2 separate regions of the Homo sapiens genome follow, and region 2 is linked to region 1. Evidence: fine-mapped expression QTL. A gene starts in region 1. The other region holds a variant in brackets. All regions are shown on one strand. Distances are from middle to middle. Region 1 holds the start of PARD3 (par-3 family cell polarity regulator). Region 2 overlaps PARD3 (par-3 family cell polarity regulator).

Region 1 (14,404 bases):
CTAGACAAATTTTTTTTTTCTGTTAGAGACAGAGTCTCGCTGTGTCACCCAAGCTGGAGTGCAGTGACACCATCATAGTTCACTGCAATCTCAAACTCCTGAGCTCAAGCAATCCTCCCACGTCAGCCTCCTGAGCAGCTGGGACTAAAGATGCACACAACCATGTCTGGCTAATTTTTTTTTTTTTTTTTTGAGATGAATCTCCCCATCGCCCAGGCTGGAGTGCAGTGTCGCTATCTTGGCTCACTGCAACCTCTGCCTCCCAGGATTCAAGTGATTCTCTTGCCTCAGCCTCCCAAGTAGCTGTGATTATAGGTGTGCACCACCATGCCCAGCTATTTTTTGTACTTTAAGTAGAGATGGGGTTTCACTACTTTGGCCAGGCTCGAACTCCTGACCTCGTGATCCACCCACCTCGGCCTCCCAAAGTACTGGGATTACAGGCGTGAGCCACCACACCCGGCCTATGCCTGGCTAATTTTTTTAAAAAGAGACGGGGTCTCACTATGTTGCCCAGGCTGGGTCTTGAACTCCTGGCCTCAAGCAATCCTCCCACCTCAGCTTCCCAAAGCTCTGGGATTACAGGCGTGAGCCTTCTCACCCAGCCAACCCTAAGCAAAATTTACCCTAACTCTGAATAGCATCCATTTGACCTGGAGAGCAAGCCCCGTCATTTCAAAGTTGGGGGGGTCGGGGTGAGGCAAAATATTCTCACAGCATGGAGGGAAGCAGTAAGAGGTCCTGGACCCTGTATAACCATCTGAAAAGCCACTGCACATCACTTATGGTCCCATGAGCACCAAAACAAACCATGCAGAGCAGGAGTCCCTGCACAGCTCAGGGAACTGGCAGTGGGAGTCCAGCCCAGCACCTCTGAATATGAGAACATGGGGAAACAGAGGCTCACAGAGCTTGTAAGATTTGCCAAAGCTCAAAATTTCTGGGAGCCAAAGCCAAATGCTGGAAAGGCTGGTCCATTACGTGCATCCTTGGGGCATTCTCAACCTCCACTGCACAAAGGTAGCTGGCGAGCTGGGTAGAAGGAGTCTCTGGCTAAAGAACAATTGGTGAAGCCCTTAGAGGGGGTAGGGGGTAGCACACAGAGACCAGGGGACCTGGAGGCTCAGCAGCCAGGAGCTTACCAGACACTAAACAGGACACATTGGACAGGCCTGAGAAAGCAGGGATTCCACACTATATGGAAAACTCCTAAAGACAGCCAGTTTTCATTTGAAGTGTTTTGAGCATCTCTGATACACATATATATGTCATTTTATGAAATGCTCAGAACTACAAAATACCTAAAAATGGAGCGTTGTTCATAGTGGCTTATGCAGTCTATTTTTCTAACATCTTTATTGACATATAATCACATAACCATAAACTCCATCCATTGAAAGTATACACTTGAATAGAACTGTGCAACCATCACCATGATCTTAGAATATTTTCATCATCCCAAAAGGAAACCTCATACCCATTCACAGTCTCCATGACTCCAAACTCCCAGTCCTAGCGGAACACCACTCTACTGTCTCTATAGAGCTACCCACTCTGGTCATGTTATAGGAACAGAATTATACAATATGTGGGCTTGCTGCTATGAACACTGATGTACAGGTTTTGTGTACACATTTTCATTTCTCTTGTGTGCTTGTGTGTGTGTGTATATATATAAAGAGTATATATAAAATATATACAGAATAGAGTACAGAGACTATATACAAAATATACTCTGTTTAGGTGAAAAAAATAAATAATTGATATTTAAAGTCACTTGGATGTGGAGCTTGAAATTTTACTTGCAAGGACCAATATGAGTTGATGGAGAAAAAAGGAATACACAAAAGTAATATTTAAATGGCAAAAACCACGTAAAGATAGCAGGCCAGATGCAAGAAGGCACAGACCTATACACGAAAGTTATTTTAACTTTATTTACTAAAATGTTTACTTATTTACTAAATAAGTTAAAACAAAGTTATTTTTACTTATTTGCTAAAATTTAGGCCAGGCATGGTGGCTCGTGCCTGTAATCCCAGCACTCTGGAGGACCAAGGCAGGTGGATTGCTTGAGCTCAGGTGTTTGAGATCAGCCTAGCCAACATGGCGAGATGCCGTCTCTACAAAAACTACAAAAATTAGCCAGGTGTGGCGGCACACAACTGTAGTCCCAGCTACTTGGGGGACTGAGGCAGGAGGATCGCTTGAGCCTGGGAGGTTGAGGCTGCAGTGAGCAGAGATCACGCCACTTCACTCCAGCCTGGGTGACAAAGACCCTGTCTCAAAAAAAACAAAAGAAAGAAAGAAAAAACTTGTAAATAATGACTAAAAGACAAAAAAAAATCAGTCATCTTTCTACTTTATTCACTGAACTCGGCATTTATTTTGATAAAGATTTGCTTTTGTACAGAAAAGGTACCCAAAACAGGTAAAACTGTATACATTTACTGATGTCCAGCTCTACTGCCATTGACCTTGGTCCCAGCCAGGAATGTTGAGCGAGTGGCCAAGCAGGATGAAAGCATGCTGTGTGGGCTTAGCATGCCATCTCCCCCGATGGAAAATTACCTATAGAAAGCACCTTCTGGCCCAATCTTACATGTTTATTTCCATCCTTGATAAAAAATACCGAGGGCTCTAATCATCTATGGGGAGCTCAACATCACCAACTTGCACCCAACTCTGTGGGGAGGTAGAACCTCCCAGGACAGACGGAGGATCCGTCTGTGGGTTTGCATCCAAGTGGGACTTTAAATATTCCCTCCACAACCAATTTATCCATGTCTACCACAAGCCAAGAAGCGCTTCACATCCGCCAGATTCTCTCTGAGAATCTCAGATCCTAAACATTCCTACTTAGTCCTGGCACTCAGCCAAGCATCTCAACTGACGGAATCAGAGGCGCCAGACCAAGCATAGGTGTGTTCCAGGGCCAGATTCTCACACAGCCCTGGCCACCTGCCTTGAACCTCGCCCAAGGCGAATCCCAGGAGGGTCCTCTGCTTGAGCTGAAAAACAAACTGAACTCCCTCAAGACAGCTGATACGAAAGAGTAACTTCCAAGTACTCCAAACCTCATTAAATCTTAGTTTCCATTACAAGCTGTTTGTGCCAGTAGGTCAAACACACCAAACCTTAAAGTCCTTTAAATTCACGAGTGCTGATGATAGTCCTCTCAGCAGAAGTGTATTTTTTGTGTGAGAGCAGTGTAACATGTTGATTCTCAGCTTTCTATTTACTCAACATTCTGACTGCAATGTGACAGACACGGGCTATTCACCAAGACTGAAGCTCAGCCACCGCTTCAAGCATTTCACCCGGAGGGAGGAAGGGCGCACGGATACACTTGAAAACCACACAGCACAGCCCAAGCATCTGAGTCGGTACAGGAGCTACACCCAGGACGTCCCCAGGAGAGGCAGCAGGCAGGGAGAAAGATCCTCTAGCAGCTTGGGATGGAGAGCCAGCCTCCTGGAGATGGCTGTCTGGGCTAAGACTCACGAATGAGTGCAAGGAAGGAGCAAATGTCCCAGGCAGAAGAAACAGAAAATGCCAGAACAGAGGCAGCAAAGTGTATGTGAGTCCCAGGGGGTGGAGCAGCTGCAGAGGGAGTGGCTGGAAGGCAAGAGGGGTCCCTACAGGGACAGGCTGTGCTCAGAAGGCAGGACTTGGAGAACGCGGGACAAAGGCGCTTCAGCACCAGAGGACAATGTGACTTGAATTCTGGAAAGATCAGCCTTTCAAAAATGTTTAGTTTCTTTTTCCTTTTTAGAGGGAAGGCAGAAAATGTTAAAAAAATAAATAAATAAATAAAGCTGCTTTCATTTCACTATTTTTATGCTTGCCTCTATTTTCTTTCAATCTCTGCAACAGTACAACTATTTTCTTAAAAGTTTCAATACGCTTGTAAATGAATAACATGCAGTCATACATTTATTCACAGAAAAATTCCATACCAACCACAAGATTTTTCATAAAAACCATGACTGTCATTGTTACTAATCAACAGTCTCCCGCCACCAAAAAAGCACATTTTCAAAAGTTTCTGTCCATGAGCTCAACTTTTTAAAAAATACAGGTCAAGCATCCCTAATTGAAAAATCCAAAATCCAAAATACTCCAAAATCTGAAACTTACTGAGCACCCACATGACGCCACACCTGGAAAATTCCACATGTAAGTACTTACCACAGACTTATTTTCAAGCACAAAAATACTGCATAAAATTACCTTCAGGCTATGTGTATAAGGTACGTAGGAAACATAAATTCTAACAATACATTAGACTTGGGTTCCATCTTCAACCTATCTCATTATATATACAAAAATATCCCAAAGTCCAGAAAAATCCAAAATACTTGTGTGGTCCCAAGTATTTTGGATAAAGGATGCTCAACCTGTAATAACAACAGGTTGCTATTAAATCACTCTAAAGTGATGTGCTTGGGGACAGAAGCCAGAGGCCCCAATAATCAACCTGTAATCAAGCCAATACCCGCAGCTTTTACTTCCCCAGCCCATACACACATGCAACACACAATTTTGTTCTCCTGATTGTGGTGCTGCACGTCATTCAATCTCACATTCTTACCTATCCTTCAATGAAATTACATGCTGCGTTTTTAAGTAAACAGGAAAAATCCAAGCAGCAATAGTGGGACACCTGGGAAAGTTCCCTGGGTGTAAAACTGCTTGGTGGATAAAACATATTGGTGATTCCATTCATCTTTACGGAGCAGCTAGTATGGGCCGGGCCCAGGACTTTAGAGTTTCCCTCTCATCATCCTGTTTAATACTTACATTAACCCTGCCAGGGAATATTCCACTTGAGATAATGGGGCTCCGTAGGGTTGGTGTACCCAAGGTTAAATGGCCTGTAAACCTAAGTCACCAAACCCAATACAAAGCTCCCCTATACCCAAGGTTAAATGGCTTGTAAACCTAAGTCACCAAACCCAATCCAAAGCTCCCCTACAGGCTGAGAGGAGAGCTATGAGGGAGGTGGGAACAGTGAGCAAAGGGGCTCCAGCACCTCCTTGCCCTCACTTTTGCCCTTCACTCTCTCCTTCCCCTTTTGGTCACTCAGCAACCTTTATTTAGAATGAAATGCTAAGGAATTATCCATCCAAACCTCATCTAAGGTTGCTCAGGTCATCCTCCTAGAACTACTTGTTACCCTGACTCTTAGCTAAACACCACAGTCCTTCCTACTGCACGAAGTCTCAGGGTCTTGCCCTGGCATTCTGTCCTCCTCAGTTTGATCCTGACCCCCTGGGCTGAATGCCTGAATCGCCTTTGTCCATACTGCCTTCCTGGAATGCCCTCCCTTTCACTTATCAGAATCGTAGCAGACATTCTGCAGATTCACACACCTAGACCCCAACTGCAGACCTCAGACCCAGAGCCCATCTGCCCCTGCAGGCAGGTGCCTCACCCAGTTAGCAAGCACTGCCCTATATCAAGGTCAGCCTTCCCACCAACCAAGCCCAGTTCAAATCCTAGTGACTAAATGAGACTCCCACACACACCCCATAATGATAGCACCCACCTCCAAAATCCAGAAGCGATTACTGACTGTATCACAGTGGTGCCAATTAATGCTACCACCTCCTGTTATTTATACTGTTATATATTCTTCCTGTCTCCTAGATTATACTTTTTTTTGAAAATTGCACGAATTCAGTCTTATATTTTTTTCATAGAGCATGACTTTTTATACACAGCAGCCCTTCAACCAACCCCACACAGCGCTGCAGCTCAGCACCATGTCCACCTGGAATCACGCGTGTCAGGTCGCAAGCGCAGAAGAACAGATGCAGACACGGTCCATCCTCCCATCCTGCGCCCTCATGAGAACGGTCCATGTAACGCGGTTCCCAATGTCTAGCACCGCACTGTCCTCAGCGAGGCTCCTAATGCAGATGGGTGGATGAGGATGAACAGCTATTCCCAACCATCAGTGATCACAACCACAAAACCATCTTTCAGGAGAGGAAAAAAGAAATGTCACACATGACTAAGCATAAGCCTTCAAATATCTACTCACTGAGGACATGTCTAGTATTAAATCATGACACTTCACTATCCAGAAAAATTGATTTGTGTAATCTGAAGAGAAAACAGCTCACATGCAATGCCAGAAAATTAGCCCCACCACACCAGAAAATGTTTACTGCAGAGAAAGCCTTGGTGATTTGAGAGTTGGGACCTTTCTCTTTTCCTTTTTATTTTTTATTTTTGGCTTGGTTGGTTATTATCCAAAGCCATAAACATGATCTGCCCACACTTTTCCCCACCAGATGGGAGCTCATCAAGCCACATGTCACCTAGCAACCTAAACACCACTCCACAACTATCCAGCCACCCAATTCTTCACACAGAATTTCTCTTGTTCTATTAGGCAATACGGATAAGGAACAGATAGAGAATAAAAGTTAAAACAGTGTTAAATACATATTAACACTTCCTCATCACTTAATATAGAATGGGAAAAGTAGTAAGAAAGACTAAAAATTAATCTTAATCATTGTCTAGCAATTTCAGAAGAAAAACGAGAAAAAGGAGACCTAGAAGACACTCCAGCTCTGGCAACATTTAAGGGTCAACAATCTTGGGATCCAATGACTGAACTTGGTATACTGCAAAGCCCCCGTTAAAATTCACCTACAGAACTCTAAGTTGTACTTAAAGAGCATGTAAGTGTTGGAACCCCTGACCCATCTCTGACCCTCCCTCTCATCTCCAACTCCCATGTCACTATCACCCTCCCTTCCTTCAGCTCATAGGCCCCTTTTCTCTTTGTGACACCTTCCCAGACACCCTTAAAAAACTGCACTCCCTTTTCTACGCCCTGTGAAACAACCACTGCTAATCGTTAATAAGGACCAGGTCCGTGACCAAGGCCCTGCACTCTAGCCACCCAGCATCCCAGAGGCCACCTCTTCTCCCCATGTCATCACCAGCTCCTTCACCTGGAGGACCCCGCAGCCTCTTGCTCAGCTTCTCACAGCCAGTGGGTCCCTTAGATGTCCAGCACCCAGAACAGTGCCATGGACACAGTCAAAGCTTCAGAATTTCTGTGGAACGAATGCCTGGAACAACTACATTTGAACTACTGCCAAACAGGCAGTTCAGCCTATGTCTATTTTGTGCAGGATGAAACATGGGACACAGTAGGTAAAACAATTTTAATCACATAAAATTAGTAAAGTGAAAGAAAATGTTGACCACCCTCTTCCTATTCAGGAGCCTAGACGTACTGCAGAGTGCATATTACTTTATTTCTCTTTCCTTGCACAATTTGTTTTGTTGGTTTCCAGAGTGCCTGAACAATTTGAGTACTCTTTTGGAACATTTAAAGCATAAACTGTCACACATAAACAACACTTAAAAATGCTAAATGTCCATTTAGATGGTTTTCTTTCCCTTTGTCAGCTTTGCAAGATAAACAGGTGCCCAATTCCCACTAATTTTATTTGATTTTCAATAAAAGAGTTCAACTGTAAGGAACATAACAGAGCTACTAAAGCCAACGTCTTCCATCCTTGTGTCGGGTCTCCAAACGTCCCCCAAAATTATCTTTAAAAGGCCAAATTTATGCTATTTTTTCCAATATATACTAAAAGCAAAACAAAAGTCTAAAAAGCTTTTACTTCTTAATTTCTGAGAGAACTGAAGATGCCACCGGAGTACCCTGTGTACGCTCAATAGGGCTGACCAAGCCACTTTCCAACGTCATTTGCAGCCCCCAAGCCCACAGGGGCCAGGCCACTGTCGGGAACAAATGGGAAATACTGCACCCAAACGAATGCGCTCCCCACCAAAGAGGACTCTACTACAAAGGAAATATATCCCCGGGTGCTTGGGAGAAACTTCAGCGTGGGCTGTTGTCAAACACAGACACAGTCGGTAAAACAATTTAACAAAACGCCTTTTCACTTCTGACACACAGTAGAGGAATGCTGTGAAGTGGAGACAATGTTATCAGTCCACCAGGAAAAAGGGAAATCCACTCAACTCCCAAGTCAGGCCCGGCCCCGCAGCCCAGCCACATGGAACCAGCCCGGGATAGGTAGGAGCTGAGGTCCTCGCAGGAAAACTTTTCATTCCGCGACTCTTCCAAGGTTGTGCTTTCCAGAGCCCAGCAAGTGGGATCAGCTCAGTAAATGCTCGCAAGCGAGTGCCAAGTGCCAGCGGTGGCCCTCCCGGGAACGCCTCCCCGACCCCAAGCCGGCGACTCCCCAAACCCTGCAGCCCCCGGACGCGACGGGCCGCCCCTGCCGGCCCCTACCAGCAGGGGACATGGAGGAAAAGCCCCCCGCCGCTGTTCCGCCCCCGCCCGAGTAAGGGAGAGGAGGCAGAAGGCTCGCAACCCGCCTCTGTCGGAAGGGCAGTCACGAAACTCTCCTCACACCAAAAGTTCCCAGTCCCCGGCCTGTGCCCCCGGGGCCTGGGAGCCGGGAAAGGCCTGGGGCTGGATTTCCCGGCCTGCGCCCCCCGCGCGCTGGCTCGGGGCTTGGCTGGGTCTGCAGACTCCGGGGAGGCGCCCAGGGCCGGCCTATGCGCCGCTGCCCGGCTCGCCCCGCGCTACCGAGGCCGGAGCTCCCGGGCGGAGGGTGAGGGCGGGGGCCGCGGGACCCGGCTGGGTGTCCCAGAGGCTGCGCCCCGGCCCGCGCAGAGAACTTTGGCGCCCGCAGTCCGGGGCGGGGGGCGCCCGCGAGGCCCGACCGGCCGCACTTTCCCTTTCCCCGCCTCCCTGCGCCTCTCCTCCCCCTTCCAGGAAGCGCCATATTGATCCCGGCGCCGTCCCCGCCGCCGCCCCCTCCCCGCCCGCGCCCCCGGCCCCTCACCTTGGCGATGGCCTTCCGGTAGCGGGTCACCGCCTGCTGGATGAGGCTGAAAACTTTCATGTGGCCGTCCCCGCACGGCACGACCACCCGGGTCCGTCCGAAGCACACGGTCACTTTCATGCCGCCGCCGCCGCGGGCGGGCCCGCGCCCCTCGCCGAGCGCAGCCGGAGCAGCCGAGGCCGGGACCGAGGACGCTGGGCGCGGAGGAGCCGCTGGGGACTCGGGCGCGCGGGCGGCTAGGGGCGCGGGCAGGCGGCGGCGACGCCGGGGGGCCGCTCAGCTCGCATGCCCGGCCCGGCCGCCCTCGCCTCGCCTCGCTTCGCCCGGGGCTTGCCTCGCCTCTCCCCGCCGCGGCGCCCGCAGCCTCCGGCCACCTGTTCGGCGTCGCGGCGCGCTCGCCGGCGGCTGCCCGGGGCTGTGTGGCGCTGGCGCTCGCTCGGGGCCGCTGGGGGAGGGGACGGCGGGAGGGGAGGGGAGGGGAGGGGAGGGGAGGGGGAGGAGCAGGGCAGGGCACACAACACCGCGCACATGCGGCAGGGGGAGGCGCGGCCGGCTACCCGCGCGGGGCGGAGCGCAGGACCGCAGCTCGCGCCCCCGCCACCGCCCTCGGGGGCCGACCTCCTTCCCTCCTTCCCTCCCTCCCTCCCTCCCTCCGGGGGCGCGGGACCCCTCGCCCCAGTGCCAGCACGGGCAGGCGGCCGTCTGCCCCCACCAGCCCTGGCCCAGGCGCCCCCCAGCCCCCTTCACCCCGCCCGCCCAGCACCCTGCAGGGCTGCGTCGCCCCTCCTCGGGGACGCCCCTTCCACGCCTCCAGAAGTCTCCACGGAGCCCCCCTTCCCCTTTCTTTGTCACTTTTAATCCCATTCCTCGAACTGGAGGGTTTTGGGTGCAGGCGCTCCCGGGGAAAGCAGTTTGTGCTCAGTGCGGTGAGTCCCCTCCTCACCGCCCCGGAGGCTCCAGCCCGAGCCTCTCCGCCCGCGGGGACTCGAGCCTGCAGCTTGCTCGGCTGGGTTTCTGCCCTGCCCGCTCCCTAGCTCTGCTGCAGGGCCGGCAGCGGCAGTTCTGCCTGAAACGCAAGAATTAATAGTCTGCTCTGGGGAGACAGTGGGGAAGCCGTGAGCGACCGGGCCTTTTCCAGAGGCCACTATTTACCTTGAAGTTTCCTGTTGACCCTCTGCTGACCCACCCGCTTAAATAGATTAGAACTTAAACATCGCAATTCTGATACATTTATTTCTTTGAAGTTCTGCAGCATAAGGAATCCTAACGCGAATCCGTGAACAGTCTATTCCGACGGCGCAGAGAAATCTCACGCGGGGATCCCCACGATGTGCCGGCGCTTAACGCAGACGCCCGAACCCAGGGGAAGGCTGCGACTCCGCGATGAGTGACATGCGGGCTTGAGACGTTCTAAAGGAACGTGGACCGAGTTAGGGAACGTAACTGAAGCTCATTTTGTCTTAGTTATGGACTATGAGTCCTTAATAAATGTATGTCATTATGTTTAAAGAATGACAAATGTCTGCAAAGAGTGGTCCCTGTCCCAAGCCCTTTCCAGACTATGTGAAATTCTTTTTTGCCAGTTGTTTCCAAGACACGTGAAAGCAATCAAGCTCCCCTGGGTTGGCGCAGAACTTGAGCACTTAAGAGCTGGAAGAGCTGGCGATCGACCATCCATCCCACTCCACCTCCAATCTTAAAACAAGGAAACAAGACACGAGGTTCGTCCGCTTGCCACACTCCCTGCGCTTTGCAGCACCGCAGCTGCCCCAGCATAGTGCAGTTTCTCCTAGGAAACATTGCCCTTCCTCTCCTCTCCCAGCCCTGGACCACCACTTTCCACCACCTGTCCCAGCAAATCAGTGCAGTGGTGTTAGCCCCATCTTACTCCAGGACATTGACCCAGGGCCAAAGTCACTTGCCCAAGGCGGCAGAGAAAGCTCAAGGCAGACCCAGAAATAGTCTAGGTTTCCCTCCTTCCACTCAGCCATGGGAAAGGCTCCTCCTACTGCTGTTTGGCTGCAGCACTAGACATTTCTAGCCAGTAATTAAGTTTGTGACAACGATGACAACAACTGTTGATGTGGGTTTTTTGCTTCTTACATAGATACTTGGATCCACAACAACAATTACTGATAATTATAGGTGTTGTTTCTGTTTTCATGCATTGGGAGAGTATACTACTAGTTTAGAATGTATACTACTTTATTTTATTTTGTGTTTTTTACATTTATTTATGTATTTATTTTTATTTATTTATTTATTTATTTATTTTGAGACCAAGTCTCGCTCTGTTGCGCAGGCTGGAGCGCAGTGGCGTGATTTCGGCTCAGTGCAACCTCCGCCTTCTGGATTCAAATGATTCTCCTGCCTCCGCCTCCCGAGTAGCTGGGATTATAGGTGCCCGCCACCACGCCCAGCTAATTATTGTATTTTCAGTTAGAGACAGGGTCTCACCATGCTGGCCAGGCTGGTCAATCCGCCCGCCTCAGCCTCCCAAAGTGCTGGGATTGCAGCGTGAGCCACCGCGCGGCAGAGAATGTATACTAGTTTTGATGCTACACTAGTTCAGAGGGGTATACTAGCTTGAGTATAATAAATTAGAGTGGGGCTTTCTCAAAATAATTCTAATCGAAAGTCATTTTTCAGTAATAACCAGAGTACATAGGACATCACACTGATCTAGGTTCAGATCCATATTTGGCCACTTACTAGTGCCTTAGACACAACAGTCACTCTTTCTCCAGCCCGTTTTATCAGCTGAAAAGTAGAGAAGTAGAGCTTATCATATCCATATCCATCTCATAGATCTCATAGGTTATGAGTCAGTCTTTCTTTTTTTTTGAGATAGAGTCTTGCTCTGTTGTTCAGGCTAAAGGGCAATGGCACAATCTTAGCTCACTGCTGCCTCAGACTCCCAGGCTCAAGCAATCCTTCCTCAGCCTCTAGAGCAGCTAAGACTACAGACAAATACCACTATGCCCAGCTAATTTTTAAATTGTTTGTAGAGATAAGGTCTCACTATGTGGCCCAGGCTGGTCTTGAACTCCTGTCCTCAAGCGATTCTCCCGCTTCAGCCTCCCATAGTGCTGGGATTACAGGTGTGAGCCACGGCACCTGGTCATAAGTTATGAATGTTAAATAAAATAATGTATCAGAAAACAGTACGGCTGGGTATGGTGGCTCACGCCTGTAATCCCAGCATTTTGGGAGGCCGAAGTGGGCAGATACCTGAGCTCGGGAGTTCGAGACCAGCCTGACCAACATGGAGAAACCCCGTCTCTACTAAAAATACAAAATTAGCCGGGCATGGTGGCACATGCCTGTAATCCCAGCTACTCGGGAGGCTGAAGCAGGAGAATCGCTTGAACCCAGGAGGCCGAGGTTGCGGTGAGCCGAGGGCAACAAGAATGAAACTCTGTCTCAAAAGAAAAAAAAAAAAACAGTACATGCTGCCACGCTGCCACATGGGAATGTATAGCGTAGTACAGTCCAGTTACCGTAATGAAGGCAGAGGGTAACAAAGTCCAGCACAGGATAGCAAATGATGACAGTGGAGGAGGCAGGAGAGATGAGGAGGACAGGAGAAGACCAAGGCTCAAAGAAATGACTAGCCAGGTGATACAACTTTCCAGTGACTGGGCTAGGACTACAACCAAAAACTCCAGCTCTGACTCTCAGGCCTGCACTCAATTCACTTAAATTTGATTCCACATGCAGTTAGTAAAGACCTTCCTTGCAGGAAGCACTGGCTAAATATTACAGAATTATAAAGGTGAGTAAAAGAAGGACAATCTAGAGGTCAGAATAAGATAGCTATTCCAATAACTATAATTCAACACATTAAATATTCAGTGCCAGCAAAGTGTTTATGGCGGTACTAGAGAAGGGGGAAGCTTTCATAACAGAGATGACATCAGGATATGTGGATACCATTTTATGTACATCAATTCCTTTAACTATTCAATACCTAATAAGGATATGGATGTTTTTAAAAAATATGATCCAGAGGATTAATAACACTGATTCCACCAACCAGATAAAGCCTTACAGCTGTATTTAAATCTACCTAGTTTATCTAGATGCAGTGATTCCGTTTATATTAATAATGGATGAAAAACTAGTACTGCATAATTCTAGATGCCAGAGCCTTTGGTGTCTTGAGTCAAAATTCATGAAAATTTTTTTGTAATTCATAAAATTTCATGACACATTGGGAATACATATCCAAGTCCTCACCTGCCCAAATAGAGCCCCCTTCAAAATATTCCAGGGTTGCCCTCAACCAGTCCATCAGCAACCATCACCAAAGTATCCACTGCCTTTTTTTTTTTTTTTTTTTTTTTTGAGATGCAGTCTTGCTGTTGCCTAGGCTGGAGTGCAGTAGCACGATCTTGGCTCACTGCAACCTCTGCCTTCCGGGTTCAAGGGATTCTCCCACCTCAGCCTCCCAAGTAGCTGGGATTACAGGCGTGCACCACCACGCCCGGCTAATTTTTATACTTTATAGTAGAGACAGGGTCTCACCATGTTGGCCAAGCTGGTCTCAAACTCCTGACCTCAAATGATCCACCCACCTCAGCCTCCCAAAGTGCTGGGATTACAGGTGTGAGCCACCATGCCTGGCCCTTCTCTGCATTTTCGTTCTCCTGTTCTGGTTCCCAGACACTGCTGGAAGGTATGTCAGCACTGCCCTGCTGAGAGAGCCCACTTTGCAAAAACTTGAGTCCAGGCTGAGATCACCACTTCTAGAAGCCCCGGTGTCACCCAGCCTCAGAATGCCAGAAAAGGCCCATCCCTGCAGAAAGTAAGCACCCATGTTTGCCATGACCCACCACTCAGAGCCCAAGTCCCCAGTCAAATATCTCCCTCCTTCCCAGGTCCCAGAGCTGAAGAATGAGGTAGCTTGTTGGTGAAGTCCATGAAAGTTGGCAGAACAAGGTGGAGGCTGGCAGAGCAGGTGATATTAACACTCAACTCTGTTAAAGACAAATGTGCAGCAGAGTGGAATAAAGCCACCTCAGCCACTCACTTTCTGGCGGGCCACCTTGACTGGAGGCAGGATTTGGAAAGTCCAGTGATATGAAGAGGTGCTTCGTGGTGATGCTTTATAAATGCCAGTTCTAGCTGAGCATGGTGGCTCATGCCTGTAATTGCAGACTTTGGGAGGCTGAGGTAGGAGGATCACTTGAGCCCAGGAGTTTGAGACCAGCCTGGGTAACATAGTGAGACTCTATCTATACGAAAGTTAAAAATTAGCTGGGTGTAGTGGCAAACACCTGTGGTTCCAGCTATGAGGCTGAAGGATCACTTGAACCCAGGAGTTTGAGGCTGCAGTGAGCCATGATCATGTCCCTTCACTCCAATCTGGACGACAGAGTGACACACTATCTCAAAAAATAAAATAGGGCCGGGCACAGTGGCTCACGCCTATAATCCCAGCACTTTGGGAGGCCAAGGCAGGTGGATCACCTGAGGTCGGGAGTTCAAGACTAGCCTGGCCAACATGGTGAAACCTCGTCTCTACTAAAAATATAAAAAATTAGCTGGGT
Region 2 (16,273 bases), 69 kb before region 1:
TATTTTTTATTCCTTTTAAAGTAAGTGGCGGATATCAGTACACTTTGCCTGTAATCATTTCAGCAATGCAATATATGTACTGTAGTATAATCCCATTTTTAACAGAAATATTTTTTATATATATGGTATACACTCCACTTGTGTAATGACACTTTTCTTGGAGTAATAAAAATAGAGTCTCACTCTGTTGCCCAGGCTGGTCTCAAACTCCTGGGCTCAAGTCATCAATCCTTCTGCCCTCCCAAATTGTTCAGATTACAGGCATGAGCCACCACACCAAACTTGTTACTTTTTTTTTTCTTTCTTTTGAGACAAGAGTCTCGCTCTGCCGCCCAGGCTGGAGTGCAGTGGCGCGATCTCGGCTAGCTGCAAGCTCCACCTCCCGGGTTCACGCCATTCTCATGCCTCAGCCTCCCGAGTAGCTGGGACTACAGGTGCCCACCACCACACCCGCTAATTTTTTGTATTTTTAGTAGAGACAGGGTTTCACCGTGTTAGCCAGGATGGTCTCAATCTCCTGACCTCATGATCCGCCTGCCTCGGCCTCCCAAAGTGCTGGGATTATAGGCGTGAGCCACTGCGCCTGGCCCTTTTTTTTTTTTTTTGGTGATAGGGTCTTGCTCTGTCACCCAGGCTGGAGTGCAGTGGCATGATCACAGCTCACTGCAGCCTCAAACTCCTGTGCTCCAGTGATCCTCCCACAACAGCCTCCTGAATAGCTGGGAACACAGACACATGCCACCACACCTAGCTAAATTTTTTTTTCATCAGCAGACAAAGCTATAAAAGAAATGAAACAAAAATAGATCACTTGAATCCGCACCACTGTCTGTGTTCATAAAGAAAGTGACAACTACACTGAAGAAAGAGTTATTTCAAAATGTTGGAAATAGGTTACTTTATTAATTAATTAATTTATTTATTTATTTATTTATTTATTTATTTATTTACTGAGACAGAGTCTTGCTCTATTGCCCTGGCTGGAGTGAAGTGGTGCAATCTAGGCTCACTGCAACCTCCACCTCCCAGGTTCAAGCAATTCTCCTCAGCCTCAGCCTCCCAAGTAGCTGGGATTACAGGCATGCGCCACCATGCCCAGCTAATTTTTGTATTTTTAGTAGAAACAGGGTTTCGCCATGTTGGCCAGGTTGGTCTTGAACTCCTGACCTCAAGTGATCTGCCCACCTCTGCCTCCCAAAGTGCTGGGATTACAGGCATGAGCCACCATGCCTGGCCAAAATAGGTGACTTTAGACATCCCAAAAGGTCAGAAGCAACAAACTCATGTCTCCCTCCCCTTTTACGGTTGAGATGCTCCACAATCCCAACTGAGAACAGCAAGACACAGTTACAGAAACAGAAATGAGAAAGCGGGTGAAGGGGAGAAAGGGGGACGGAGAGAAGCAGGGGTCTGCAGTATTGACCTGGTCCCAAGAATACGGGGTGTTTATTTAGGTGGTTGAGCAAATAGTCGGTGAGGTCAAAGGTATCTCATGCATACAATGTGCCTTTCACTTTTCAACAGGAGCCAAGGGTTATTCTGTAACTATGTGCTCAGGCAAGGAAGATTTCCCACTTCTCCACTAACAACAGTCAGAAGCCAAAAGCTCCACTCAGGTGCTTGGCTACATTTTGCCTTAAAGGACAGCTGAAGTGGTGCGGTTACCTCCACCCCAACAAGGACTAAGAAAGACGTCTGCCCAACACTATGGAGCCGATTTTACCACAGAGGTGAAAATCCTATCCCCTCCCACAATGAGCATTCTATTTGGGGGAGGCAAAACCACAGTGCTCTGGTTTGAACATTTGTGTCCCCTCCACAATTCATGCTGAAACTTAATCCCCAACGCAACAGTAGAGAGGAGGTGCCTTTAGAAGGAGATTAGCCTTAGAAAAGGGCCCTCGGCTCCCCCACCACGTGAGTGCTCAGCTGCTAGGCACCAACCTAGCAGCAGAATCCAGGCCCACACCAGACACTGGCACCTAGTTTGGACTTCCCAGCCTTCAGAGCCGTGAGAAATAAATCTGTTGTTTTATAAATCACCCAACTTCAGGTATTTTCTTATAGCAACACGAATGAACTAAGACACACAGCAAACCAGCATGAAACATCTAGGAAAGTAGGAACACAAGAACACAGCACACCACGCTAGGGACGCCTGGGCCCGCAGGTGGTTCTCAGAACTGCCATTGAGAATGCCCACAGCAAAGGGCCCATTAGGCAAAGGCCCAGGAGGAAGAAGGCAACAGCAGATGGGGGCGTCTTGCTGAAAAAGCTGAGACTCTGGACTGCCTCATACAGGATATGGGTCTTACTACAGGCAATACCCTCGAATATTTTCTACTCTATTCTTTCTCTGTCTTTAAAGCCAATTTTAACCTACGAAGAAATACAACCTCCTCTTCTCCCACTCTTGCCCCACCACCAAAGACAAACACACATATGCTAGACTAACCATCCTACATGATACATGCATGTATGACTTTAAGGAAAACACTTCTAATAAGATAGCTGGAGGGAATGATCAGGATTTTATAAGCACCACTAGTCCTGGGAAAGCTGGTACTAGATCCATCTACTCAGACAGGAAGAATCCCATTTTCGTTTGTATTTTATTTTAGAGATGGAGTCTCACTATATTGCCCAGGCTGGTCTGGAACTCCTGGCCTCAAGGGATCTTCTCGTCTTGGGGTCCCCCCAAAGTGCTGGGGTTATAGGTGTGAGCCACCTCACATGGCCTCAGAATCCCATTTTTAATAAGCTCCACAGCACATCACTACCTCATTAAAATACCTCATTAAAATGGAAGAAAAGCCAACATACGGAGACCCCATCTCTACACATAATTTAAAAATTAACCAGGCATGGTGGCACTCATCGGCGGTTCCAGCTACCAGAGAGGCTGAACTGAGAGGATCACCTAAGCCCAGGAGGTCCAGGCTGCAGTGAGTGAGCTGTGTTCACGCCACCGCACTGCACTCCAGCCTAGGTGACAGAGTGAGACCCTGTCTTAAAAAAACAGGGCAGAAGAGGTCAGGGGGAGGATGGGTGACAGAGTAAGACCCTGTCTCAAAATAAGGGGACAGAAGGGGTCAAGGGGAGGAAGCCTATTGCCACTTCACACAAAGTACTGCTAATTTTATTTCTAAAATGTTTAGAGCACATTGTAGCATAAAACATAAAACCAGAACAAGCACAAATGGGGGTGTTCAGTAAATGGTAATGATTGATATATCTGAACAAAAATTTACAAATGGATGTAAAGTAACACTTCAGCTAGCAGAAAGTAACTCACTTTCTCCGTTTTGTTTAAGGGATCACCTCCTTAAACAAAATTACCAACCACTGAAATGTAGGTAAAGTTTTTATTACATAAAATGAAGTTGACAACTAAATGCAATGTAGCCCTCTGGACTGGATCCTGGCATAGAAAGAGGACACTAACTGAAAAACTGGTGAACAGCAAATAAATTCTGAAGTTTAGTTAAAGTCAACGTTGGTTCATTTTGACAAATGCATCACAGTGATGTAAGACATTAGCAAAGAGGATGAGGTGAGGGGTACACTCTCTCTACTATCTTTGCAGTTTTTAATAAATCTAAAGTTATTTTAAAATAAAAAGTTTATGTTAAAGAATGACCGCACCAGAGGGCTGTTCAAGAAATGAGGAAGGGATCAACCATATCAAGTACTACTGAGGAATCCAGCAAGATAAGCGTCCACCTGACTTATATTAATTAAAATGCTGAAATCCCAGGAGTGCTGGGAGAGAGGCGAGGGCAGGGGATCACAGGAACTTTGTTGCAGAGTTGCAGAAGGCCTCAGTGCTTCCCTCTGTCCCAGAGGTCCTGTGATATCCCCTCCTCTTGCCCTATAAGCATCACGGTCCTATTGCTATGAACCACCTTGTGCAACCTCAGTGGTGCTTTGGAATGTTCTAGAATGAATCAAAAGATCCTCACAGCTTTCCCTAAACTTAGGAATGCATCCTAAACTACTGAGTTCAGTATGATATTCAATAAAGTGGGAGCAGGGGATAGAAAATGCCCCATGCACTGACCTCTTAAATCCTGTGCAAGATTCTATGCATAGAGGATCTCTCTGCACATACCACATAGAATGTTTTCTGAAGCTTGCTGGAAAATATTCCCTATCTCTGTCAAAGAAAGGGAGAAAGGATAAGTCAGGAGGAGGGCAGAACCAGAGTTGGAAGGCAAGGACAGCTGCTACGGTTCACCCTCCTACACACTGACCCGCCAGCGACTCCGTGCAAGTTCATGGAGAAGGGAAGGGAAGAAAGGAAAGGTGTCAGCTGACTTGAGCTGGAGAGAGAGAAAAACACAAAGGCGACAGCTGGTGAGAGCCTCCCGTCCCCACCCCAAGAGGAGAAAGGGAGGAAACCTGAAACCACTTCAAGACGAAAAAGAGGCAGTCCCATTGCAGCTGGCTGCCTCCTCCAGTTCCAGCAGAGCTGGCCGGCTGGGAGACAGCCCCAGCCTGCTGGGAGAGCCCCCTGGGAGCTGAGCTGCAGGAGAGGGCTCCGACAGCCCTCCTGGGTTCTGAGACAGCAGTGAATTCAAGGAGACAAGGATGCTCTGAAGGCAAAAGGATAAAAAATGGATCAGTGCATCTGGTCTCCCTGTCAACAAACATATCCTTCTGATGCCACCTCTTTCACGACCCAAGAATCTTTTGAATCCATGGCAGTAGCACAAGACAACTTCCTTGACAATCACTGTGCCCGTTCCAACAAAATGCGGTTTTCTATCATCAGTGAGTGATAGGACTGTAACAGGTGTGTTCAGAGCTGAGCTGTTCTTCTGACTCCCGCCCCCATCTCCCCCTCCCACTCCTCCTACCTGTCAGCTCCCAGGGCACCCTAACTTTCACACCAAGCTGTTTTAAGGCTTCCAAAGGCCTCTCTCACCAGCCTCTTCTATATCATGTGAACAACAAATCACGTTCCCTCCCCTCTTTTCCTACTGATTCAGACAGAATCTTCATTCTGAACAACAAAAAATTGACGTATATCTTTTGAGATCTAGACTTCACAGCATAAAAAAATTGATAAAGCCTACTAATTATACCAAGTAGGGTAAACAGTGGTTAAATTTTTTTTAATGTGAAGCTTGACTAAAGTCTACTTACACAGAACTATCACTATATGAACAATATGGTAGACAGGTAATGTTGGTGTCTCAAATAACTAACTCGAGTTCAACTTTTAACAAAAGTATAAATGCAAATAATTTGTTTACATAAGACTTTTTCCCCCTAAAACAAATATTATAGCTAATTGGAACTGGCCTATTTGTGGGTGAACAGACCAACAGGCTAACAGACTATACTCAATACTACATCTCTAAAGGCAGTAAAATGCCAAACCTACAAATTGCCTATGGAAAAGTCAACTGCTGTGTTTTCGTAAACCAAATTTTTTTTTTTTTTTTTTTTGTTTGAGAGAGAGTGAGTCTCACTCTGTTGCCCAGGCTGGAGTGTGGTGGTGCGATCACAACCTTCTGCAGCTTCAACTTCCTGGGCTCAAGTGATCCTCCCACCTCAGCCTCCCTAGTAGCTGGACTACGGGCATGCACCACCACATCTGGCTAAGTTTTTTTATTTTTTGTAGTGGTACAGTCTCACTATGTTGCCCAGGCTGGTCTTGAACTCCTGAGCTTAAGCGATCCTCCTGCCTCAGCCTCCAAAAGTGCTGGGATTACAGGCATGAGCCACTGTGCCCAGCCTATTTTTATTTATAAAAAGAAAATTCTGGGTAAAGAAGAAAGGGAATATCTAATTCTCATTTAGGTGGGGTTTTTAGACACCAATCCATGCAGAAGCGACAGCCCCTGTGCAGAGGAGCGCAGCCATCTACAAATGGACCACAGAACAAAGAGAATGCCCTGCTGTCAGCACAAAAACTCTTCCCATGCTGGTCGGTGCCACTGTGATACCTGCTTCTGTGGAGCAGATGATCCTGGGATCCTATTGTCCCTCATTGTGTATGGATTCAGTAGGCACTACTGAGAAATCTCTTATAGTCTAACAGAAGTTAATGAAGCACATACAACACAGAAAAATTAACAAAAGTTGATAAAGTACTTCAAAAAGACCATTACTGGTTTTTGTAAACTCACAGGATGATTCCAGATTTTGCAAGCATTAGAATATAAAATACCTAAAAATTTCTTAAAATGTACAATATAACAATAAGGTAAATTCATAATAATCAGGTTCAGCGACAATACTCAGAAGCAATGAGACAATCCCATCCCATTGCCTGGCACAGGAACTGCCTATTTAGTTTTCAAGGTGTTTGTACTTCTTTTGTCTCAATCTCCCCAGCACAACCTTGGGAGGATGAAAATTCACGTGATAGCTACATGCTACTGAAACTTGGTTCTTCCAAGTTTCCTCCACTCAATTAAACCTCCAAATTACTTGCCTTTGATAACTATTTTTAATGACAAACTACAAACAATCACAGAGTTTACAAGGACAGGAACTGGGATGAGATCAGAGGCACTTGCCTCTGACACCAATGTAAGGGGGGGACCAAAATCTCAGTAGTCACGATAAATATCATAATGCAACAATTCAACAAAAGAGATTGTTCAGCTAGAGATCAACAGATTAATAGACTGATTAATAGAGATTAATCCAATCCACTGCCACAACAGATCTCCACGTTTGCAGTCCTTGGCTGGATGGCCTCTACACAACACGGCTCCCAGGGGTGGTCCCGTCTCACAGACCCTACAGGCCAAGTTCTTTACTTTTCAGTTTCCGTGTTCATTAAGTGTCCTGGAAGCAGAACTGCATCATAAGATCAATGGCAATTACTCTGACCTAAAAAACAGAGAATCTCATAGATGATCTAATGAATCACATCCCAACCAACCAATCCAGGGTTGATCTACCCACATCCTGTACTGCGTGGAGGCTTTTTAATACCAGTCACTACTAGGGAGTAAAACGTCAAAAAGAGATTGCATTCCTTAATTTTGCATTGTTTGCAATTATCTGTAAAAACTAATTTTTCAAAAGAAGAAGGGAGACAATGCAGGCAGCCTTCTCCATATTGATCGTGAAGAATCTACAATCACCAACAAGGCACAGCAGGCCACAACATCTGAAACTGCAGACCCTATGTTCCTACCACAGGCTCCTTCACTGAAAGCAGGAGCTTCGGAGTCACACGGTCTTGGGTGCCAAGTACCACTCAGCCATTTATTAATATCGCCAAGCCTCAATGTCCTTTTGTAAGAAAGGAACGTAATATCTAATTCATTGGATTATAAATTCATATGTTGAAGGCCTAATAGTATGCACTGGACTTAGCAAATATTCAATTAAATCTTATCATCATCATCTCATAATTATTTTTCCATTGTATCCTTCCCCAAACCAGAAAATCTCTAGGTTCCATGAAAATGTGTCCACAGAAAGAACCAAAGGCATGGCAGAGCTCCATGCTAGGCCACGGTACTCCTCTGCTGCTGTCTTCAACACCAGGTGACTGGTTTCCTAAGGAACTAGACACACAACTTGTCAACAGCATTTGTCTTCTCATCTGCACTGCTCCCAACCAATGACCCAACACAGCTTTGTCATCTTGGGAGAGAAGGTGGTGGTACACCTTCAGATCAGTTTCTTTGATTGACCTAAGAAACATACAACTGAATGTGGGACGCATCTATCCTAATAGGACTCCAACATAAATCAGCACCTGTCACACAGAAGACCACATCTCAACCTCACACTTATCTTTCAGAATAAACTGAAATCTACACTAAATTTCAGGTCCGAAAATCCCATGCCAATTAATAGAGAGCACAGAATCACAAACACAAGTAACCAAACTCTCCCGTATCTAAAAATCTGCTTTCTCGAGCCACAAAGACATCCTAACTAGCCTTGATAGATTGTACATACAGCACTGCCAGTGATGGGTATCTGAACTTGAAGTCATTGTTCCATTTCACATGAAGATTGAACCTGCACATCGGCTGTCTAAAATCAATGCCAAGGTTGGAGGAGGGAGAGGAAAAACAGGGTTGGTCTGAGAGCACACGGAAGCTGTGTGACTGCCCCCACAATCACGCCTGGCTGCAGCCCCCAGATAAGGGCATGGTGGGTCCTCCCCTGCCACCCTTCTCTGCCATATATAGCAGTGCTGGGCACCTGGCACAGACTCCCTTTGCACTCATGGCTGCCTGGAGAATTGCTCAGAGTAACAGCATGTCTCGGCTAGTTAAAAAGATCTCCAGACACTCTGAGCCCGTGAAAGAAGCAACAAACAGCCAGGCCTGAGCCAATCCAGATGACTACTAGAGCAGCAAAAATCTCAGCTGTGCCAACTAGACCAGTCACCACGCTCCTCACCGCCCATCTCCCTCTGGCCAAATGGCTCTCCATGGTGTCCCTTAGAAATAACAATAAATAGCGCAACAACTTAATTTTATAGTTAAAATGCAACAAGCCAGACAGTACATTAGCCATTATCCATGCAAATCTTGAAATATTTTCCATGCAAAATCCCAGTTTTAATACATAGTCACCATGAAGAGGAATTCAACAGCAAGGATATTACATTTACCATCTCAAAAATAAAAAAACTTTTTCTAAGTTAATCCAATATTTGGTCGTTTATGATTTACCTTCCAAGATGAAAAAGCTGAAAGGCTTCTTTTGTCCCCAAGGGGAGAGACTGCCAGCAGCTTTGAGGTCTGCCTTCCAGCTGTTTTTGTTAGATTTTTACACCTGCTAATGCCCAGCAACTAAGTGAGCATAAACAGGCATCGCTTACCAGCGTTTCACTGGAATCTCTTGATTTAACTTCCAAATTACTTGGCTTTGATAACTATTTTTAATGACAAACTACAAGGAATCATAGCGTTTACAAGGGCTGGAACAGAGGTGAGACTACAGGCACTTGCCTCTGACACAAAATTTAAGGGAGGACCAAAATCTCAGTAGTCAAGAGAAATAGTTTAATGTAATAATTGAACAAAAAAACTGATGCACAAAAATCCAAGATAAGCAAAATGCCAAAATTTTAAATAAAAACAGACTCATCTGAGTGTCCTGTCTGATAAGAGGG[G/A]AGATTAGAAACCTTCTCTCCAGATGGTCATCACAATCACAGGGGACCAAAGAGCTGCAGTGGACTGAAGGAAGTGGGTGCACACCCAGGAGCTCGGGCAACTAGGACCCTCTGCATCCTCGACCACCCCTTGGACCCTGTGGTCTCCCAGGAACCCAGTCTCTGGCCTGACCCCAGAAAAATCAACAGCAATAACCTAGCAACCAACCTCATCGTTTTACAAATAAGAAAAACAAGGCTGGTTGTAGTGGCTCACACCTGTAATGTCAGTGCTTTGGGAGGCCAAGGCAGGAGGATCACTTGAGGCCAGGAGTTTGCGACCAGCTTGGGCAACAAAGCAAGATCTCGTTTCTACAAAAAATGTTAAAAATCAACCAGGCTTGGTAGCATGAGCCTGTAGTCCCAGATATTCGGAGGCTGAGGTAGGAGAATCTCTAGAGCCCAAGAGTTGGAGGATGCAGTGTACTATGATCATGCCACCACACTCCAGCTTGGATGACAGAGAAAGACCCTATATCTACAAAAGATAGAAAAGAAAGGAAGTAAAAGGAAGGAAAGGAAGGAAAGAGAGGGAGGAAGGGAGGGAGGGAAAGAGAGAGGGAAAGAGAGAGAAAGAGAGAGGGAAAGAGAGAGAGAGAAGAAAGGGAAGAAAGAAATGAATACACACGCTCTGGGGTGTCGACTGTTGGAGGAAAGGCTAGGATAAGAATCTAAGCCTCCCACTCCAGGGCTTTGGGCATGCAATCCTCAGATGAACCATCACCAAAGGAAGACTCGGCAATGTGGACAGGCCTTCTATTGCTTAAAAAATTGTAGCTGGGCACAGTGGCTCATGCCTGTAATCCCAGCACTTTGGGATTACAAGTGATTTCAGGAGTTCAATGCTGCAGTGAGCCCTGAGCCATGATCACGCCACTATAGTCCATACTATGTAAAGGAAATGGCACAGTAATTCTTAGAAAATAATTAAGAAACGGCCAGGCGCGGTGGCTCACGCCTGTAATCCCAGCACTTTGGGAGGTCAAGGCACGCAGATCACGAGGTCAGGAGATCGAGACCATCCTGGCTAACACGGTGAAACCCCGCCTCTACTAAAAAAATACAAAAAATTAGCCGGGCATGGTGGCGAGCGCCTGTAGTCCCAGCTACTCGGGAGGCTGAGGCAGGAGAATGGCGTGAATCCAGGAGGCGGAGCCTGCAGTGAGCCTAGATCGCACCGCTGCACTCCAGCCTGGGCGACAGAGCAAGACTCCATCTCAAAAAACAAAAAAGAAAAAAAAATTAAGAAACAAAGAAGCCACTAAACAATAACTCTACTATCAAAAATAATTTCTTGGCTGGGCACGGTGACTCATACCTGTAATCTCAGCAGGAGGATCACTTGAGGCCAGGAGTTCAGGAACAGCCTGGCCAACAAAGTGAGATTCTGTCTCTACAAAATTAAAAAAAAAAAAAATTAGCTGGGCATGGCAGCACACACCTACAGTCACCACTACTCGGCAGGCTGAGGCGGGAGGATTGCCTAAGCCCAGGAGTTCAAGGTTATAGTGAGGTATGATCACCCAGCTGCACTCAACCTGGGCAACAGAGTAAGACCTCGTCTCTAAATATAATAATAATTTCTTAATACTATTTTAAAATAGTAACACATTTATTAAAGCCATGAAAGTCAAATGTCTCAAATTTAAGATTCTATGTACTTTTGCAAATATGCCCATAAGTAGCCCAAACTTGTAGCCAGCTTCATATCAAGTAGAAATAATCACAAGCATCTGTAATGAAAATTGTCAACTTCACTGATTTCACTACTTTTTAAATGATAAAAAATTATGAAAGACGCTCAAAAAAGCAGCTATGTACATACCCAATTTCCTTTCTGTGTTAAGTTTCTAGGTTTCCAGGAATCTCCTCTGACAAACAGGAATTTATTTGCTTCTACTAATAAATCAATTGGAAATAACATAAAACATAAATAAGTTTCTGTGACATTTTTACTAAAAGGGAGCCGTGTCTCCCTCTAGACAGCTGGAGAACAATCTTTCAGCCATGCCCAGGCGAGACACCCTGACTTCTGCAGTGGACACCCAGGCTGCCGGGGTTCAGGGTCACCACATTTCTGCTCCTCGACCCTTCCCTGCGGGGATTAGAAGGCAGAGAAAGCAGCATTGGTTCCTGCTCTCATATGTGGTTTTGTGGAAACCCTGCTTATCATGGAAACCAAGTATCTTCAATTAAAGATATTTGCTTCTGCTTCTGCTGAGATACTGGCTTCTGCTAAGATTATAAAGAACAGAAATTTGTACATTGGAAATCAATGTAAAAATCTAATGTACATTTTCTGACTGGTTTGCTTTTTTGGCTTTTTTTCTTTTCCCTTTAGCTTTAGGAATTAGGAATATCATTTGAGCCACGATTCTAAGGGAGCTGGGGCGGCAGGGGCTGCAGACAGCCACTCTAGAGAGAGACAGCATCTTTGGAGAAGACTAAGGTGGCAATTCGTTTTCCATGTGGAAATTCTTCTTGAGGATCTAAGCACCAGCCCAAACCACACAAGGTTATGTATTTCAATAAAGAGGCCATTTCTAAATGTTCAAAACATATTATTCTCCTACTTTAAAAAAAGAAAAGCAAAAATGGATCGCTAAATGCAAAGCCAAATCCTCATAGTGGTAACTTTTACTGACATCTTATCTCAACTAAAAATGAAAAGTTTTCATTTTCAACTACTCTTTGCCAATACCCTCTTCACTTAGCTTCAAGGGGCTTCCACGACACCCAGCCTGGCTCCCTCCATCTGAGTCTCTGAGAGCTGGTGTCGTGGTATGCCCACCATGCCAGGTTCCCTCACAAGAGTTCATCTAATCAAAGCTTCCATGACTAACAACGATTTAAAAGCCACTTGTGAAAGATGTTGAAACATGTTCACATACAATGAATAAAGTTTGAAAATGGCTTTTATAGGATGGTTCTGGGGCAGACACTGCAACTGGCTGACTCAGCATCCACTCCTAAGGCTCTCTCTCCCTGCCTTTCTTTGCCTACAGCGGCTGGAAAAGTAAAAATCTTGTACTCACTGGTCCAGGCTCCCCTTGTAGCTGGGCATGGTCACACGACAGTTTCCTAACCAAGGAGACCTAAACCCAGGCAGCCATGGAGCAGAGAGGGAGCACAGGAATGGACGTGGGGGTTACCACCATGACAAGCCACTTTGCTGTCCGGAACATCATGGAAAAAGCAGAAAATGCGGGAGGAGGTGTCTAGGTCAGCCAGCCATCAAGGGCTGCAATCCACATCTCAGCCACCGGAACCCCTCCATGCTGCATCACTTAGAAAGCTCTGCTCTTGGCCAGGCGTGGTGGCTCACGCCTGTAATCCCAGCACTTTGGGAGGGTGAGGCAGGCAGATCACTTGAGGTCAGGAGTTCAAAACCAGCCTGTCCAACACGGCAAAACCCTGTCTCTACTAAAAATACCAAAATTAGCTGGGTGTGGTGGCGTGCGCCTGTAATCCCAGCTACTCGGGAGGCTGAGGCACAAGAATCGATTGAGCCCGGGAGGCGGAGGTTGCAGGTTGCAGTGAGCCAAGATCAGGCCACTGCACTCCAGCCTGGGCAACAGAGCAAGACTCTGTCTCAAAAAAAGAAAAAGAAAAAGAAAGGAAAGGAAGCTCTGTTCTCAGTCACCTCCACATCCTCCCCTCCCACCCCTCGCTCCTCTGTAAGCACTCCACACCTCAGACAGAACAGACTTGCCCTGAAGTCTGGAATCAAACCCCCTGTAGCAAACTCTTCAAGTAGCAGCATCCCCCCCTGCTCCCACTCTCTCTACCAGCAAAAGCCTGGCTCACCTCCTCCGTAACACTGGCCAAGAACCACAAGGAACAGTGAAGTGGCTTCATTCATGAAGACAGACTTGAGCACCCGCTCCCTGCTGCAGTGCAGGCACTGCAGCAGTAGAGGTGGGTGATGGTGCCTTCTAATAAAATCCTATGACGCTGTAACTCAGGACACATTATAACATTCGGGCTACCACTGCACTAATCACTAAGGATGTTCCCCTCAGTTGTACTCATCAACACCCAGAGTGCCCCTGGGCCACAGGCCCTTCACAGTGGATGTTATCTTCCTTATCTTTGTAGCACCTGTCAGACCTGATGCACAACTGGCTGTTAAATACTAACGGCATGAAGCGTAACCCATCAACTTCAATTTCCTCCCACTAGATTTGTCCATTATGTACTTTCCAAATTCTAGTCCTATTCTCTTACTTCACCCCATATACTTTTGCTTTTATTTTCCCTTTATCTGTTTCCAAAATTGTAAATATAGCAGTCACATGTTCTTATGGTAGACCATGATGTCCTGACACCAAAAATCATTATGATGAAGTCTTGCATGTAGTTAGATGCTTCCTAACACCATGATTATTTCCCATTATTCTGGAAATGCTAGCCAGTGCAATTAAACAGAGAAGTAAATGTTTGCTACAAATACAGAAAGGGGGCAATGTTATTATTTGCACACAATAAAACTGCATACTCGGAAAACCCAAGAAAATAACTTGAATTAATATACAACTAAGAGGATTATTAGTTTTGAAGGTTATAAAAATGAAGGTTATAAAAAATATATAATAAAATAATAAACTATATATAAATTATAACCAGTTTAAAAAACATAATAAGAAAAAACTGAAAATAGCAATGTTAAGTTTAAATCCCTAGGAAATACTTAGCAAACATATAGAACTTATATGATGTATACAGAACTTTAAAAAGTGACAAAAAAGAAGATAAGTGAAAGAGCATTTAATATGTATTGCCGGATATATGGACTTCTTGGATAGTCAGAAGTAACTACTTGAAAGATGTCAGTTCCCTCCTAAAATAATATATAAGGCCAGGCACAGTGGGGCTCACACCTGTAATCCCAGCACTTTGAGAGGCAGGAGGGCAGATCACTTGAGTTCAGGAGTTTGAGACCAGCCTGCGCAACATGGTGAAACCCCATCTCTACTAAAAATACAAAAAGTTAGCTAGGTGTGGTGGTGTGCGCCTGTGGTCCCAGCTACTCAGGAGGCTGAGGTGGGAGGATCCCTTGAGCCCAATAGGCGAAGGCTGCAATGAGCCAAGATGGCACCACTGCACTCCAGCCTAGGCGACAGAACGAGACCCCCTCTCAAAAAAAGTACACACACACACACACACACACACACACACACACACACACAAAACCCGCAGTCTCAATTTAAAAATTAACAGAATTTGTGTTGTTTTCATGGGATGGGTCCACTTTGGCAAAATGAGTCAAAGTCATAAGCTTGGAAAATAAAAGCAGAAAATTCGCAAAAATTATGAAAACAAAAAACGATATGGAAGTACCTTTTTAGAATTAAAACCAGTTTGGGATTGAAAACAGAAGAAGAGAAAAAAACAAATAAAACAGTATATCTAATTCAGAAAAGGTCAAACATATATTAATCTATGGAAAATAGGACATTTCAAGCAAAAGCAGAAAAGAGTGATTATTTTTAAAATAAAATGATCAAGAAATTCCATTTCTAGAAAGCTACAGACACATTTGTAGTACCATTACAGTTACATCCTCTTTCTCTCTTTCAAACACACACACACACACACACACACACACACACACACACACACACACACCCTAAGACTATAGAGGACAGGAAAGCAACACAGAAGGCACAATTTACATGTTTACATTTACAGGAGAGGAGTGAGGAGTTAGGGGCAGGGAGCCTTATTTCTTCTCTGAACTAATTAAGTTTTATAAATGTTAATGCATTTTTAATGTTAATTTGGATTATTCTTGGTAATGACATAACAATTTTTTTTTTTTTTTGAGATGGAGTCTCACTCTGTTGCTCAGGCTGGAGTGCAGTGGCACGATCTTGGCTCATTGCAACCTCCGCCCCCCGGGTTCAAGTGATTCTCCTGCCTCGGCCTCCTGAGTTGCTGGGATTACAGGCACACACCACCACACTCAGCTAGTTTTTGTATTTTTAGTAGAGACGGGGTTTTGCCATGTTGGCCAGGCTGGTCTGGAACTCCTGACCTCAAGTGATCTTCCCGCCTCACCCTCCCAAAGTGCTGTGATTACAGGCGTGAGCCACCGCGCCCAGATGACCTAAGAATATGTTTTATTTACACTCTCTTACACTGTATATTAGGAGTGGGAGGCATAGAGATCAGTTCAGGTTTTGCCAACAGACAGAACCAGGTTCACACCCGTCACTTCCACACACTGTTGATGTGTCTCAGGGAAGCTGCTTATCTCCCATTAAGTCCATCCATTCAGCTGCAAAATGGGGATAATACCCTCAACTGAGCTGTTACAAGTATTAAATGTAATAAAAAAAAAAATAGCCTCGTATTTGGTACATAATTACCTAATAAATGGAATTGGTTGCTGTGCTGATGATTTGGGTCAAAATAACAATTATCTTGATACTCCATGCTTATAAGACAGAGAGGTGCAGTGGCCAAAGCAACTCCATCTCAGATATTAATCTGCCATGCTGACTTCTGATTAACCCCAGTTCTGGGAAGGCCTCTAAGATTTCCCGTTTATCTATTGCAGGAGCTGGCACTGCCCAGAGGTCAAACAACCTTGACATTATAGTACTTTAATTGTCCTACACATCCCTTCAGAGTCACCCTTTCCCCACAGTGTATCAGCCCTGGGTCTGGGGGTAGTGCAGAGACACAGACGTGGCTTCTGTTCCTAAGTCCCAATTAAACCTTTCTCTCTTTTTTTGAGATGGGGTCTTGCTCTATGACCCAGGCTAGAGTGTTGTGGGGCCATCATACCTCACTGCAGCCTCGACTTCCCAGGCTCAAGCAATCCCCCCACTTCAGCCCCTCAAGTAGCTGGGACCACATGTGTATGTCACCATGCCTGTCTAGCTTTTTTTTTTTTTTTTAATAGAGATGAGGTCTTGCTATGTTGCCCAAGCTGGTCTCAAACTCCTGGCCTCAAGTGATCCTCCAGCCTTGGCCTCCCAAAGTGCTGGGATTACCAACCTGGGCCACCTCACCTTAACCTAAATGTTTCTTTATGAGAAACTGGAATTGTGAGCCTCTTTCTTTAGCCTCTCAGCTTCCTCGGACTTTGCGAGTAGGTTTGTATAGGCCTGCCCACCAGAGAAC

Evidence for each region.
Region 2: its variant is fine-mapped to the expression of PARD3 in whole blood (INTERVAL, PIP 0.98).

The regions. Positions count from the first base shown.
Region 1 is chr10:34,806,024-34,820,427 of GRCh38, forward strand. It overlaps PARD3 (par-3 family cell polarity regulator), which reads right to left and starts at 9,273. Exons shown (of 25, transcript NM_001184785.2): 1 at 8,853-9,273. The coding sequence starts at 8,972. PARD3-DT (PARD3 divergent transcript) reads left to right here and starts at 9,745. Exons shown (of 2, transcript NR_108043.1): 1 at 9,745-9,778; 2 at 10,097-10,399. RefSeq lists silencers at 3,478-3,772, 8,512-8,791, 9,312-9,481, 9,572-9,621.
Region 2 is chr10:34,735,741-34,752,013 of GRCh38, forward strand. All of the region lies in intron 1 of PARD3 (par-3 family cell polarity regulator), which reads right to left. Among named protein-coding and RNA genes, the nearest start is that of PARD3, 71 kb to the right of the region's middle. RefSeq lists an enhancer at 1,548-2,048. The variant G/A (reference allele first, on the strand shown) is at 9,104.